Linked DNA regions of Homo sapiens. The protein of the gene in region 4 purifies or fractionates together with the protein of the main gene of each other region. This does not show direct contact. Each region holds a gene or a part of one and is shown on either strand. Other genes may lie near its edges.

What was found. Proteins that work in one complex are often made in the same cells at the same time.
Region 1: the proteins of CBLN4 (region 4) and TOPBP1 purify together in Homo sapiens (affinity purification with mass spectrometry; 2 studies listed by BioGRID and IntAct, with this or other methods). This does not show direct contact.
Region 2: the proteins of CBLN4 (region 4) and PLXNA1 purify together in Homo sapiens (affinity purification with mass spectrometry; one large-scale study listed by BioGRID and IntAct). This does not show direct contact.
Region 3: the proteins of CBLN4 (region 4) and SEMA6B purify together in Homo sapiens (affinity purification with mass spectrometry; one large-scale study listed by BioGRID and IntAct). This does not show direct contact.

What each region holds. Positions count from the first base shown.
Region 1 is NC_000003.12:133,599,738-133,602,941, forward strand, and holds the end of TOPBP1 (DNA topoisomerase 2-binding protein 1), read right to left. Parts: intron 1,657-3,204; coding exon 1,513-1,656; 3' UTR 501-1,512; downstream 1-500. UniProt on the Homo sapiens protein: Scaffold protein that acts as a key protein-protein adapter in DNA replication and DNA repair. Composed of multiple BRCT domains, which specifically recognize and bind phosphorylated proteins, bringing proteins together into functional combinations.
Region 2 is NC_000003.12:126,989,615-126,993,114, reverse strand, and holds part of PLXNA1 (plexin-A1 precursor), read right to left. Parts: coding exon 3,328-3,500; intron 1,732-3,327; coding exon 1,549-1,731; intron 1-1,548. UniProt on the Homo sapiens protein: Coreceptor for SEMA3A, SEMA3C, SEMA3F and SEMA6D. Necessary for signaling by class 3 semaphorins and subsequent remodeling of the cytoskeleton. Plays a role in axon guidance, invasive growth and cell migration.
Region 3 is NC_000019.10:4,549,685-4,553,184, forward strand, and holds part of SEMA6B (semaphorin-6B precursor), read right to left. Parts: intron 2,956-3,500; coding exon 2,738-2,955; intron 1,247-2,737; coding exon 1,115-1,246; intron 589-1,114; coding exon 439-588; intron 1-438. UniProt on the Homo sapiens protein: Functions as a cell surface repellent for mossy fibers of developing neurons in the hippocampus where it plays a role in axon guidance.
Region 4 is NC_000020.11:56,002,720-56,006,926, forward strand, and holds the start of CBLN4 (cerebellin-4 precursor), read right to left. Parts: upstream 2,801-4,207; 5' UTR 1,453-2,800; coding exon 1,162-1,452; intron 1-1,161. UniProt on the Homo sapiens protein: Acts as a synaptic organizer in specific subsets of neurons in the brain. Essential for the formation and maintenance of inhibitory GABAergic synapses.

The DNA.
Region 1 (3,204 bases), on a different chromosome or scaffold from region 4:
ATTCCTAACGGATTCTAGTTTGTCCTTAAAATGAAATTAGGTGTATTTATAGAGAATTCTGGTAACGCATGTAGTATTAGGTGTTTAGGTTTAGCATAATAAAGGCTAATGCAATACAGAGTTCCAATAACAGTATGTTTTAATCTAATAGGGCAATATTCTAAATAACAAATATCAGAAATGTTAAGCAATTCATTTATTTTTTTTGAGACAGGGTCTCATTCTGTCACCCAGGCTGGAGTTGCAGTGGCATGATTTCAGCTCACTGCAACCTCTGCCTCCTGAGTTCAAGTAATTCTCATGCCTCAGCCTCCCAAGTAGCTGGGACTACAAGCATCAAACAGCATGCCCGGCTAATTTTTTGCTATTTTTTGCAGAGATGGGGTTTCGCCATGTTGTCCAGGCTGGTCTTGAACTTCTGGGTTCAAGCAGTCCACCCACCTTGGCCTCCCAAAGTGGTGGGATTACAAGCATGAGCCACCGTGCCTGGCCTGCAATTCTTTTTTTTTTTTTTTTTGAGATGGAGTTTCGCTCTTGTTGCCCAGGCTGGAGTGCAATGGCGCGATCTCAGCTCACCGCAACCTCCGCCTCCCGGGTTCAAGCGATTCTCCTGCCTCAGCCTCCTGAGTAGCTGGGATTACAGGCATGTGCCACCACACTGGGCTAATTTTTTGTATTTTTAGTACAGATGAGGTTTCTCCATGTTGGTCAGGCTGGTCTCAAACTCCCGACCTCAGACGATCCGCCTGCCTCAGCCTCCCAAAGTGCTGGGATTACAGGCACGAGCCACCGCACCCAGGCCCCTGCAATTCATTTTTTACGTTACATAAATGTTTTGTTGCTTCAACAGAAGAACAGATGCCAGGGTGCTCTTTTAAAAAATTTATCTATGTAAACACATCTTAATACTAATTTGAGTTACTACTTTTATTCTTTATTGTCACATTTTCCAAGTTTTGCGCATTCAAACTTGGCAAACATCATGGAGATTTGTACAAACATACATATACATATATACACACATATTTATAGCCCCAGCTTCCTCATTAAACCTTGTGCTCAGGCTCCTGTTAAAAGAGGTAAAATGGTGAGAAGATAAAAATCAGGGAAAACATGAATAAATGCTGACTGACAAATCTTGTTGTTATGAATTTGTAAGGCAGACATTTTAAAGCAAAATCCATTACCTTGCTAAAATTTCCACTAAGCTACAGCTTCAGATATTTACAAGAAAAATAAATATCTTTTAACAGACTTCAATGTGGTTTAACAGCAAGCTAGCTGAGGAGTTGTATTTTGTTGTTATTTCAGGTAACTTTTTATTAAGAAACAGTTAATATTTCAGTGATTACAATTTCAGGTGTTCAAAACTCAAGAAGGGTCATCATTATACTCTGAAGCAGAATTCTTCAGGTACTCATCTTTAAATTACTACCCAAATCTATCACAGTCACATTCAGGCTTTCAATTTTTAAAAACATTTAATGTTTGGTAACTAAAGGGTAGATGCGATTAGTGTACTCTAGGTCGTTTGATTTTATTTTTTTCTGTAGGAGCTTTCCTCTTTTGTGATAATCCAGTCCCAAGTTCCTTATTATTCTGAATAAATGAAATAGCTTCTGGTAGACAGTAATTTTCTACATGAGGAGGTGATTCCTATAAAAGGAAAAATAAGTGATTTTTTAAAATGATTTCAAACATTTACGTGATCTGGTAATAGATTTTTTCTTTAAATCTCAGACCTCTCAGGGATGAATCTGACAAACTTAAAGGAAAACGCATATTCATTCCTAGGTTCCAGCAAATTAAACAAAATGGACCCTGTGGGACAAAGTCTCACCTTTTATCAAAGAAATACGTGTATGGTTCAGGTAGAGTGGGACTAGCTCAGATCTTACAAACATTTCATATCGGTGTTTTTAATCCCCATTTTTGAGATAAAATAAAAAAGGTTAAATGAAAACAACCAATGTCACATAACTAGCAGGTAGCAAAGCCAAATTTCATAACTGATCTGACTCCAAAACCCTTGCATTTTCCCCCCACAACCATTTCCCAACATAGAAATGGATCTTTTCCTCCTTATTATAAGTGTAATAAAACTTAATTTTCTAGCAATATGGCAGACTGGGCAACCTGAAAATGAATCACCACAAAATACCAAGTAAGTGCCTTTTGATTCAATTCTTCCATGGATAACAGCTACAAATTCTGACCAAAATATATTAAAAGCAACCATAGAGCCTGGAGAATAAACGAACCAAGCAAATGGGGGGCTGGGGACGCAAACACAGTGTATGAAGTAAACTGCCTGTTAAACAACACAGTACTCTTTGGAGGAGCAAAGGAACAATAGAACCTAGAGTTTCTTTTTTAGGGGGAGATAAGGGTCTTGCTGTGTTGCCCAGGCTGGTGGCTGGTCTCAAAAATGACACATTGAATACAAGGGAACAATTCAAATGACCATCACTGATTTCTCAACAGAAACAATGGAGGCCAGCAGACAGTGAAGTCTTTAATAGAAGAAAAAAACCTGTCAATCTATAATTCTGTATCCTGCAAAACTGTCCTTCAACAATGAAGGTAGAATAGACATTTCATACAACAGAAAGCTAGAATTGATCCCCAATCAACCTGCACTCCAAACTAAAGTTAGTTCTTCAGGCTGAAGGAAAATGTTATCAGATGGAAACTCAGATCTTCAGGGAAAACTGACACTCAAACTGGTATACATGAGGGTAATTATAAAATACCATTTTTTATTTTAGTTTCCTCAAAATGCACAGAATTGTTAAAAGCAAAACCTATTTAAAGTAAAATCTTATTTGGGGCTATAAGATGTAGATGTAAAATATATGACAACTACTGCATAAAGCAGAGGTCAGCACACTTTCTGTAAAGGCTCAGACAGAAACATTTTAGATTTTGTGGGATAGATGATTTGTGCTGAAACTACTTAACTCTGCCATTATAGTGCAAAAGCAGCCATAGAAAATACATAAATGAATGAGTATGGCTGTTTTCCAACAAACCTTTATTTATAAAATAGGCAGTGGGCCAGGTTTGGCCAGGTGGCTATAGTTTACTGACCCCTGGTATAAAGGACAGGGGAAGCAAATGAACCAACTTGGATGCAAGAGATCTACCTTTTTTCATTTTTTTTTTTTTTTTTTTTGAGACAGAGTTTCGCTCTTGTCACCTAGG
Region 2 (3,500 bases), on a different chromosome or scaffold from region 4:
GCTCTGACCCAAACGGTGCCCCTGGGGCACAAGAGGGTGAGTGCTGGGCAGCAGGAACAGGGTAGGGCTAGAGGAACCTGGTCACTGGCTGGGTAACAGGCTCTGGGGCGCCCCACAAAATGTCTCTAAGCTGCTGCACTGGGCTTCCACACAAGCACGGTCCTCTGTCTGGCAAAACCCACTCCAACACCCACCCCATGCGCTCGAGAGCCCTGTGTGCCTTCCAGTGTGAGGAGAGGGAGTGCAGGCTGAGAGGACGGGAGGGGCCTCGCACCAGAGCCACAGGGCGGTACCCCACATGGGGGCCAAGAGGGAAGTCACAGCAGAGGACCCAACTCAGGGGTCACAGGACTTTCCCCATCAGCTTCAGCCTCATAGCCACTATGAGCAGAACCAGCAGGACCCCAGGGCACCCCCACCCTGGGGGGCCTACAATCAGCAGCTGGGCCCCCACGGGCCCCAAGACCACCAGCACCCCCCGCCCCCAGCCCAGAGCCTGAACATCTGGCTTATTTCACAGAGGGAAGCTGAGGCTGCAGGGGATCCCCTCCCAGAGATCACAGAGCCAGGGAGGGGCAGGACTCCCCACCACTCCCAGGGCAACTACCATGGCAGAGATGGGAGGCCCCCTTCCTAACACTGGGCACCGGGCTGAGAGCTGCAAGCCCTGGCCAGCCCCCGGCCCAGCCCCACTCGCGGGCACACATGGGCTCAGGGGAGCTGCATCGGCACCAGCCTCTGGTGCCGGTTATGCACCCCAGGACCCACCACTGCCCACTGGGCCTCTGGGGTGTCCAAGTATCCCCACCCTTCAGTCTCTCCGGGAGCTTCCTCCACACCAGGCCAGCCTGGTGCCCACCCCAGCCCAGGCAGCTCCCCTCCACCCACACCCTCCAGGAAGCTCTGCACTGCCTCTGTCCAGCCCACTGTTCTGGGGAAGGAAAGGAGAACCCTGAAGACCAGACAGCCATCCCTGTAGCACCTAGCCCTCCCCCTGCCACCGTGGGGCCAGCCCAGGGCTGTGTGCTGGAGCTCCTCAAGCACCAGCCAAAGACAGGCAGGGGCACTACCCTTGCCCTGCCCTTGGCCCAGTAGAGGGGCTGGGGAGAGGCAGGGCCAAGGCCTCTGGCCCGGCAGAGTGCTGAGGCAGCAGACACTGGATCTCCTGGCTGGGGAGCAGGGCCCAGAGGGGAGGGGGCCGCGCAGGCCTGCCCTCACCACCCACACACAGCAGCCTCCCCAGGAGGTCAAGTGCCCTTGGAGAGCCAGCCCCCGCCTCAGCATCCCTGGGCCCCTGCACAGGCTCCTGCGTGGTCTCAAAGTGTCCTTGCTTAGTGGGCCTGGGGCCAGTCATGGGCAGAGGCACAGAGGGGAGTGGGGCCCTTCAAGGTCACTGGGCCTAGTGTAGGGCAACATTCCCCCTGCCCCCTGTACGCCAGATCTAGCCTCCCACAGCATACAGCAGCACTGGGCCTGCCACCTGGGACGGCCGCAAGCCTTTGTTCCTGCCCCAAGCCCCCTCCTCACCCCACCCCACCCAGGCCTGACCTTGCGGATGCGGCCACTTCGCGTGCCGGCGAATACCACAGTGCGGCCCCGATAGTCATAGGCAGCCACGGCGGTCAGGCCATCATCCTTGTCCACGAACAGGGGCGTCCCCTCAATGGTGACTGTGCCCCCCAGGGGCTGGTTGAAGTCCTGCCCGCAGAAGTCGTCATCGATCTGCAGGGGCTGTGGGAAGGGGCAGGGTGAGAGCCACTCCCCGGGCACCTTCTCCCGGAGGACTGGGCCTCCCTGGGCAGGGCTGGGAGTGCAGTTGTCTTTCTAGAGAGGTTGGGGGTAGCCCCCAGAGGAGAGGTGCAGACAGAGAGGGTTTAAGACAGGAGGGAGCAGATCACACCTGAAAGGCAGAGGGCGGGCTCCCAGCTAAGAGCACGAGAAAGCAATCAATAGCTTGAGGTTCCGGAGCAGCTGGGGGCCAGTGTGGAGGGGGCGCTGCTCCACCGCCAGGCCTAAGGAGAGGGCAGGGCAGGCAGGGAAGGGATGTGGGGAGAAGTGGGGCAGATGGTCCTTGTCTGCAGAGGGTTCATTGGCAGGGGCCAGGCTGCTCAGGAGGAAGGAGCAGGGGAGGCTGGGCCAGGGCTAGGCCACATGGAATGAACAGGTGGGAGGGGGCAGTGGGGACTGTCCCCAGGGATGAAAGAGCAGGCCCCAGCCTTGGGGCAGGGCACAAAGAGAGAGTGTGGTGGGGCTTCACCCAGGCTCTGCCCCTACAAGCCTCAGTGTCTCCATCTGTATGGTGCAGAGAAAACACGTTCCTTGAAAAGCCAAGGGGAGGGTGGACAACCGCATCTGCCAAGCACACATGGGCCCTGCCTCACACAGGCAGTGAGCGTGAGACGGAAGGACTGAGGGGCCCTTGCAGTCCCACTCTGCCCTGAGGACAAAACCAGCAACACCCTCAGGTCAGACATGGGAGACTACAGCCAGAGAGGGCGAGGCCTTCCCCTGCGATGGCCAGCGACCCCCAGCAGCAAGCCCAGAAGGCCTGGCCTCGGGGGTCCCAGGTCTGGGCCGAGTCCCAGCCCCTTCACTTTCCACCCTAAGCAAGGCCCGTGCCCTCTGAGCCTGCCCAGGAGTGTGAACAAGACACTCCCTGAAAGGCAGCGAGATAGAGGCCCCACCCCAGCTGTGCCTTCTGATGGGTGCTGGGGGCTGTGGCTCCCTGCAGTCAGGGTCACTTTCTCTGCAAGTTGTTAACTGTGGCCTGCACCAGGACACCATCAGCTCCCATTGCTGGGCAAAAGCAGAGGCCCAGCGGGCAGGTGCCACCAGGGTCATGTGGGGGACACAAGCGCTCCATGGAAATGGTGTCTGGGCTCACCTGATAGGCTCTGGCACCAGCCTCTCACTTGCTGTGTGACCCAGGGCAAGTTACCCCACCTCTCTGATCCTATAACCTCATTTGTAGGATGGGGACAAGATGGAGCAGGCAAGCACCAGGTGTAGGACCAGGCATGTGGCTGGCACTCTGTCCAGTGTCCCACAGGGGCTGTGGACTATGCCAGCAGGGCCTCGTCACCCCATCTTCTGAGGCACAAGACAGCATCATGGCTGGGAGCAGCCTTTGGGGCTAGCACCCTGGGTCCAAACCCACTCTCTGGGGGATGGAAAAGGGCAGCCCCACCTAGCTGAGCCATGGGGATGGCCAAGCCAAAAGCCAGGCCAGGCACACAGCAGGCACCACTGGGCGTGCATCTGACACCGATGCCGTCGTCCCTGGAGGGGATGGGGCCGCGGGAGGAGGGGCGCCCCTGCCCAACTCACCGAGTTGATGCAGCCCAGCTCCTTGTTGAGCAGCCACGGCAGGGAGAGCTTGCCCTCACCACGGTAGCAGGACTGGATGCGCTCCTTAATCTTCTCCTTGATGGCCCTGAGCGTGAACAGGCACAGTGCTGACTCCTTTGGTGGCTTCACGCGGTTCTTCTGGCCCTGGGCGA
Region 3 (3,500 bases), on a different chromosome or scaffold from region 4:
AACCAAGATGGTCTCCATCTCCTGGCCTCGTGATCCGCCTGCCTCGGCCTCCCAAAGTGCTGGGATTACAGGCGTGAGCCACCATGCCCGGCCAATTTTTGTATTTTAAGTAGAGACGAGGTTTCTCCATGTTGGCCAGGGTGGTCTCGAATTCCTGGCCTTAGGTGATCTGGCAGCCTCGGCCTCCCAAAGTGCTGGGATTACAAGCATGAGCCACCGTGCCCAGCCCCATCTGTCACCTCTTGATCCCTCTGTCTCTCTCTTTGTTCTCTCTTTCCTAGTGTCTCTCCATCTTTCCCTCTCTGTCTCTCTGTGTCTCCAGCTCTCTGGGCAGCGCCGGAAGCCATGGGCTCATCTGTGTTGAGCATCTGGATCCTCTCACCCTCCATCTACCCCATCCTGTCTCCCCTCGCCATGCCCTGCCTCTCCAGGACCGACCTCATCAGGGTCCGCAGGATCCAGGGCGCATGGCCCAGCGAGGGCACCGCCTCGTCCATCAGAGGGTGGGTCTTGACAAAGTTGAGGATGTCATCCGGCAAGGCGCTGGAGGCATTGTACTGCATCCCGGGGGCTGCGCAGCACCCGGGCCTGGGGGTGACAAGGGTGTGGTCAGGACGAACGTAAAGGTTCTCATAAAGGGGCCTGATTCACCAGAGGTACCCATTGCTTTGCCCAACGACCCTCAGGTTTTTTGTTTGTTTTGTTTTTGAGACAGAGTCTCAATCTGTCGCCCAGGCTGGAGTGCTTTGGCTCACTGCAACCTCCACCTCCTGGGTTCAAGCGATTCTCCTGCTTCAGCCACCCGAGTGGCTGGGATTACAGGCACGTGCCATCACGCCCGGCTAATTTTTGTATTTTTAGTAGAGACAGGGTTTCGCCATGTTGGTCGGGCTGGTCTCAAACCCTCGACCTCAGGTGATCTGCCCACCTCCGCCTCCCAAAGGGCTAGGATTACAGGCGTGAGCCACCACACCAGGCCTCAGTTTTTCCCAACTGTATAACGGGTACAGCTGAACTCAGCATCAGCTAAATAACCACCCGGAAGCCCCAGCCCTCGGCCCTGGGGATCAGGACCTCATCCGGGCATGTGACTCAGGATGGAGGGGGTTCTCACCGGGGTCGAGGCACCTGATCCTCCGGCACCGGCGTCCAGATGGACTCGGGGGACTTCTGCTCTCGGAAGCGGCCTTCAAACACAGCTGCCACCTGTGTCAGGTCAAAGGCGCAGACAGCCGAGCCAGGGATGCTGAGGGGTTGGGATGAAAGAGTTTGGTGAGCCCGGTGGGAGGCCCCATCTCGGACAAGTGCGTGCAGGAGCCTCTGTCTGCAGGAGCCAGTGAATCTTCAGTCTTCCTAGGCCAGAGATGTCCCCTGTCCCTCCCGCATCTGTCGAATGCAGCCACTCCTCCTGAATAACATCTCAGATTGGGCCACAGTTCAGGGTCTACGAGGCCACCCCTGTCCAGGCCCCCATCCCTGTTTAACTGGATGTCCTGCCTGCCCAGTGTCACTGTTAGAGCCCACTCCCCAGCAGGCTTTTTTTTTTTTTTTTGGAGACCGAGTCTTGCTCTGTCGCCCAGGCTGGAGTGCAGTGACGTGATCTCAGGTCACTGTAACCTACACCTCCCAGGTTCAAGCAATTCTCCTGCCTCAGTCTCCCGAGTAGCTGGAATTACAGGTGCCCACCACCACACCCAGCTAATTTTTGTATTTTTAGTAGAGATGGGGTTTCACCATGTTGGCCAGGCTGGTTTCGAACTCCTGACCTCAAGTGATCTGCCCTCCTCAGCCTCCCAAAGTGCTGGGATTACAGGCGAAGCCACCGTGCCCAGTCCACAAGCAGGCTTTTTAAAAATGCAAACCTTGGCCGGGTGCGGTGGCTGACGCCTGTAATCCCAACACTTTGGGAGGCTGAGGCGGGTGGATCACGAGGTCAGGAGTTTGAGTCCAGCCTGACCAAAATGGAGAAACCCCGTCTCTACTAAAAATACAAAATAAGCTGGGTGTGGTGGCGCACGCCTGTAATCCCAGCTACTAGGGAGGCTGAGGCAGGAGAATTGCTTGAACCCAGGAGGCAGAGGTTGTGGTGAGCCGAGATCGCGCCACTGCACTCCAGCCTGGGCAACAAGAGTGAAACTGTCTCAAAAAAAAAACCAAACCAAACAAACAAACAAACAAACAAAAAATGCAAACCTGATCTCATCCCTCTTGCTCTTCACTCTTCCATGGCTCCCCAGTGCTCTCAGGGAAAAAGTCCAAGTTTCTGCCTGCAGCCCACAAAGCCTTGCCTGATCCATCCTACCAGTTCCCTGCTTTCCTGTTGTGCATTCTCCCCTAGTTCCCTTCCCACACAGACTCTCTCACGATTACTTAAGTATACTGAACTCACTGAAGCCTCAGGACCTTTGCACATGCTGTTTCTCCAACTTTGAACACCCTTCCCTCTTCCTCCATCTCACACCCAAAGTCCAGCTCCAATGTCCCCTCCTCCAGGAAGCCCTCCCTGCTCCTCTCCCCAAAGGCAGAGGATGAGGATATCTTTGGCCCAGTTCTGACCAAAGGGACTTAGAGGGTCAGTGTCAGCTTGTCCCACCCCAGCCTGGGGCCGAGGCCTCTCAGAGGTCTAATCCAGTGGTGCCCAACCTAGCACCCAGGGCATACCTGAGGAGTGAATACAGGCCCTCTCTACCCATGCCCACCAAATGCTCCCAGTTTGCTCCCATTGGTGGGCGCTGACCTGTTGCTGGGCGTGGAAAAAACGGCCAGGACCACGGGCCGGCCCCCGAGGCTGACCACGCCCGTGACAGCCTGCAGCACGTTGAAGTAGAAATGGGAGTCTCCGGGTACAGAGCAGTTGAGCCGCGCCTTCAGGAAGGACGTCCACTGCTTCTCCAGCACGCGGGGGGAGCCTCCCACGTCGTTCTTGCACACTCGGGCCACGCGGGACACCACCACCTGGGCGTGACAGTGGACGGACGGGGGCCTGAGCTCTGTGTCCCAGGAAGGCCTGTTCACAGGCTGTGCCACTCACCACCCAAACTGTGATGGAGGAGTCTGACCCTGGCTCTGGTGGGACCCCGGCCAGTCACCGTTCCTCTCTGGGCACCGGCTTCCCTGGCAGAAATTCCCGGTGGGAATGTCAATGATGATAATAGCAACAGTGACAACCATAATCATCACTGTTTCCACGAAGACCCACATTTTATTCTCACATCTCTTACACTCTTCCCGAGGGGGGCCTACTGATATCCCCCCATTGTACATGTGGGGACACTGATAAGAGGCACAGATAAAAGGAAGTGACTGGTCCAAGGTCACAATAGTAGTTAGTGGCAGTCTGTGCACTTCAGCACTGCCTGGTTGCCTGGATGGACGGATGAGTGGATGAGTAGATGGACGGACGATTACAATGGAGGGATGAGTAGGTGGATGGATAAATAAATACATCTGAAGAAGGATGATAGATAATGGAAGAGATGGTGAAGGAGAACAAGGTAATC
Region 4 (4,207 bases):
AATTATGTCTATCAAATACTAAGCCCCTAGAGAGGCATTCTCTGTCTTTGGCCAGCTGGAGAGTGCATTAGTTAGGAAAAATTAAGCAAGGAATACAGATGTCACCTCGTGCTTTCCCTGGCACATCCTGCAACACCACTTAACCTGTGCCCCCTGCACATTGCAGCTTTGCATACAACTGTGAACTGTGAATTTGGAATTTAAAAAGACTCTGGATACTGTTGGGGCTGAAATTAAAAACTCTGAGGACAGTTTTCTCCCTTAAGACCCCTTGCTAAAGGTAAGCTGATATCCTGGGGTTTCTCATCAAGCCAAACACGGAGCACCAGGTCGCTAAACAGCAGCTACAGCTTCCGTCAGCTCTTCCCCTACTCTCATCAACCTCAAAGTCTGTCTTTCCCCAGCTATTTGCAATTCTCTGAAAGGACATGAGCCCGGGAAGGGAGAACTGGCTCCCAAGCGCTTTCCTACAGGAGCTCAGCGCAGTTGCCAAATTCCTTTTCCTCCCCTCCTCCGCAACTTTTCTCTAAGTACCGGAGAAGGGCTTGCTGCCTACTCCGAGGCAGCGGCAGTGCCAGCGGTGCCTGGCACACGAACAGTGGAACCTGCAGGCGAGATCTGACCCCCGGCTCTGCCCCCGCCCTCCGCGGCCACCTGCCCGATCTCTGAAGAGTGTGGAAGCCCGGGGCTCTCTTGGGAGAGAAGCTTCTCTACCTGGGAGAAACAAATCAAACATTTATCCTGTTCCGCAAAGGTACCCAGGGAGCAGCCTCAGCGGCACCCGCAGAGGAGTCTGAGCAAGGGCACCAAGATCTGGCCAAGAGATAACGACGTCCAGGGACCAGGTGCCCTTCGGCTCCCGCCGACCTGTTGCTCGAAACTTGCCCTGAGCTCTCGCTGCCGGGCTCTGGGCTCCCAAGCCTCTCCCCCGCCGCCGCAGCAGCCTCTTTTAGGGGCCCGGAAGAAATGGGAGCCGGGGCTGGTGAGAGGGGTAGGAAGAGGGACGGTAGAAGTTTCAGACCCAGGCATATTTGGGAAGGCGAGTGCTTTACATGATTCCCCATTTCCCAATCGGACCAGCTTAGCCTGGGCAGGCAGCCTCGTGCTGAGGTGCCTGGAGACCGCCCACCCCCTAGGTGCTCGCTTCCCCCCGGGTCTGACCTGATCGAAGTAAATGATGCGCGTCTTGTTGCTCATCTCGGATGGCTCGTGGTTGGTGCTCCGCACCGCCGAGAAGGCGACCTTGGAGTTGGCCGCCCGGACCGATATCCCCAGCGGGGAGGAAGAGGAGCCCTTGGAGTCCGTGGCCGGGTTCGAGTCGCACACCACCAGACACTTGCCCTCCAGCACGATGGGCTCCGTGTCGTTCTGTGCCCAGACGGGCAGCCCCGGCAGCGTGAGGACCAGCAGCACGGCCGGCACCGCGGACAGCGCCCGGCGCCCGGAGCCCATGGTGAGCCGTGTGGGCAGCCGCAGCCGGCTGGCGCTGGTGCTCGCCCGCGTCGCCTCCTACCCCGGGATCCCGGTGCTCGGGAAGATGCTAGCGGCTAGGTCGACAGCGCTGCAGGAGCGACGGCGGCGGCGGCGCGCACACTTCCACCAATTCTGTGGCTTGAAGTCAAAGTCTCCCCTCGAGCTCTCTCGCTGGCTCTGTTACCTTTGTCCTTTAAGGAGCTCATGCAGCACCCTTTACCCTACTCTCCTCCGCCCAAGAATCAGCCCTGCCTGGGGCCCCTGCACCCACTCTGGTTCCTAGACATCTGAAAGTCATCAAACCCTCACATTCACACCTCAAGGCAAAAAATAATAATAATAATAAATTCTCACCCCAAACTCAAGCACCACCAGCTAAACCACGGAGCAGGAACAAAAAGAGGGGACTCAAAGAGAAGCCACAAGGGTGGCGGGTGCCCAGCGGCGCGGGTGCCAGTCCTGTCTGGCTTGCGGCAGGGACGAGTTACAGAGGCAGAAGGTCCTTCCCAGGCTGAGAAGAACGCGAGGCTGTGTTCATGGCCAGGACGCCAGCGACTCCCACTTTCGCCTGGTCAAAAAAATCCCCCAAACCTGGTGTCACCCAGAGGTAGGGAGGGAGGCAGCGGCTAGCCAGGTCCCTCGCACCGAAAGCGCGGATTCGCAGGATCAGGTCCAGGGCGCCGGGCGCAGCGTTCAGGGCGGCTGGTCCGGCGGGGTCCTCTCCTGCCTGGCCGCCCGCCCCCAGTCCCTGCGCACAACTTTCTCGTCCCTCGTGCAGCCCGGAGAGCGCGAAGCGGGCACACGCGCTCTATTTATAGGAGCGCAGCGTCCGGCTGGGTTGGCTTATCGCGCAACCCGCGGGCTCCGAGAAAAGGGGGAGAAGGCGTCTGGTGACCCCATCTGAGCAGCTCTCTCCTGACGTTTAACGCACCCCAAAGCAAGCGGGGCGCACAGCACTGGTGATTGGCAAGGTTCGAGGCCCCTCAGCCCCTGAAAGCCCGTGGCGTAAAGGATGCGTGCCCAGAGAGGAGCCCACGGCCCTGCGCTGGCCCCAGCTCCGCGCCCACTCTCTCCTGCTCGATCTGAGTCCGCAGAGGAGGCGGCTGGTCCCCTCACCCCTCCCAGCGCGGAACTCTGCCGCCGAGTGCCCTCCAAGCGGAGCGCGGCGCTGCCAGGCCGGGTCGCGAAAAAGGATAAGCCGCCGCGGACCCGCGCTGCGCGCTGCCCCGAACCTGGGGACCGGCGGGCGTCCCGACCGCGCCTGGCCGGGAGCCCGCCCCACACAGCCCTGGGGCCTGGCGAGCTCAGGGAAGCCTTGGGGCGGACCAGAGCCCGTGGGGGCGGCTGGGAGGAGGTGCCTGATTCCTTCCTTCCGCTCCGGGAAGATGAGCCTCAGAAGCCGCAGGGGCGCGCCTTCCCCCCACACCGCGAATCCTCCCCAGGCATGGCCAAAAAAAAGAGTGGGAGAGGGAGTTAACTCAGCAAGAATAAGTCCTCCGAAACCGTGCCAACAACAATAAAAAAATAAAAATAAAAATAAAAATAAAAGACAATCCCACTCCTAGGAATACAGCATTTTTCTCCCCTTTGGATGCGCTTTCCGCCCCCGTGCCACTCCACTGCTATCTTGGCCTCTGATTTGCAAGAGTTCCCTTCCTCTTCTGCAGCTACCACGGGGAAGGGAGGTTTGTCTCTGTCTGGACCCGGCTGCGTGAACTTGGCCGAGTCACTAACCCTCTCTGAGAGGGGGGCGCGGCGTTAACTAAGGTCCTCCCCACCCCCATCCCGCCAGCTTTCCAATTCTGTGATGCTGTGGGGTCATGGCGCCCCTTCCCCAATTTCTTCTACACTTCCAGCTGCCAGAGGGCAGACACGTATGGTATCTTTAACCAAAACAGTATCCCCTCCAGGCATTCGGAGCTCCTAAAATGGCATTGGCTAGTTATGAATGGAAGGGATGTTTATTGAGGGAGGTCCTTGGGATGGACGGCTCCCATTCCTTCCTGAGTGAAGGACGCCCTCATGAGCGTGGCATTCGAGCCCTCCACAAAACAAGGTGAACCTCGTCTCCAGCCTTTTTCCCTTCCTTCAGAAGGGCCGGGCATTGAGCTATAAGCACCAGCTCCAACTGTTAAAATTGAAGACACTACGAGGAATCCCCTAACCCTCACCTCCCTATAATCTCTCAACTAAAGTGTTAATACTTGGTGCCACAGGGGCCTTCAGATTCTGCTCCAGTGGGGCCAGTATCAGGTGTTTTGACTTTATGATTTTATTTTACTTGTGGTGGGGGGTGGTCTCGCTATATTGCCCAGGCTAGATGCAAAACTACTGGGCTCAAGCGATTCTACTACCTCAGCCTCCCCAGTAGCTGAGACTACAGGCCGGTGTCAGTTCCGGCTGGCAGGTGCTAGTACCATGCTATTTGTTAAAATGTTGAAAGTTACCTATCTAAGCTACAACCAAACAAGGTGAACTAGTGCCTTCTGAAGATGGCCACCATTTACCCAGCTTTGATGCCCCACCCTAAGCCCAGCACAATCTTCACCTGATCCCTCTCTGCACTTTGTAACTCTCTTCCAGATTTTAGGGATGTCTGCCTGGTTAACAGCAGCAATTTCTTCTCATTTGATGCAGTCTTTTGAGGGTGGGTGCTGAGTTGAATTTAGTTCCTTTTATTTCCTGTAGGGGTAAGCACCCTGCCTTCCTTGTCTGGGACAGCTGTTCAATAACT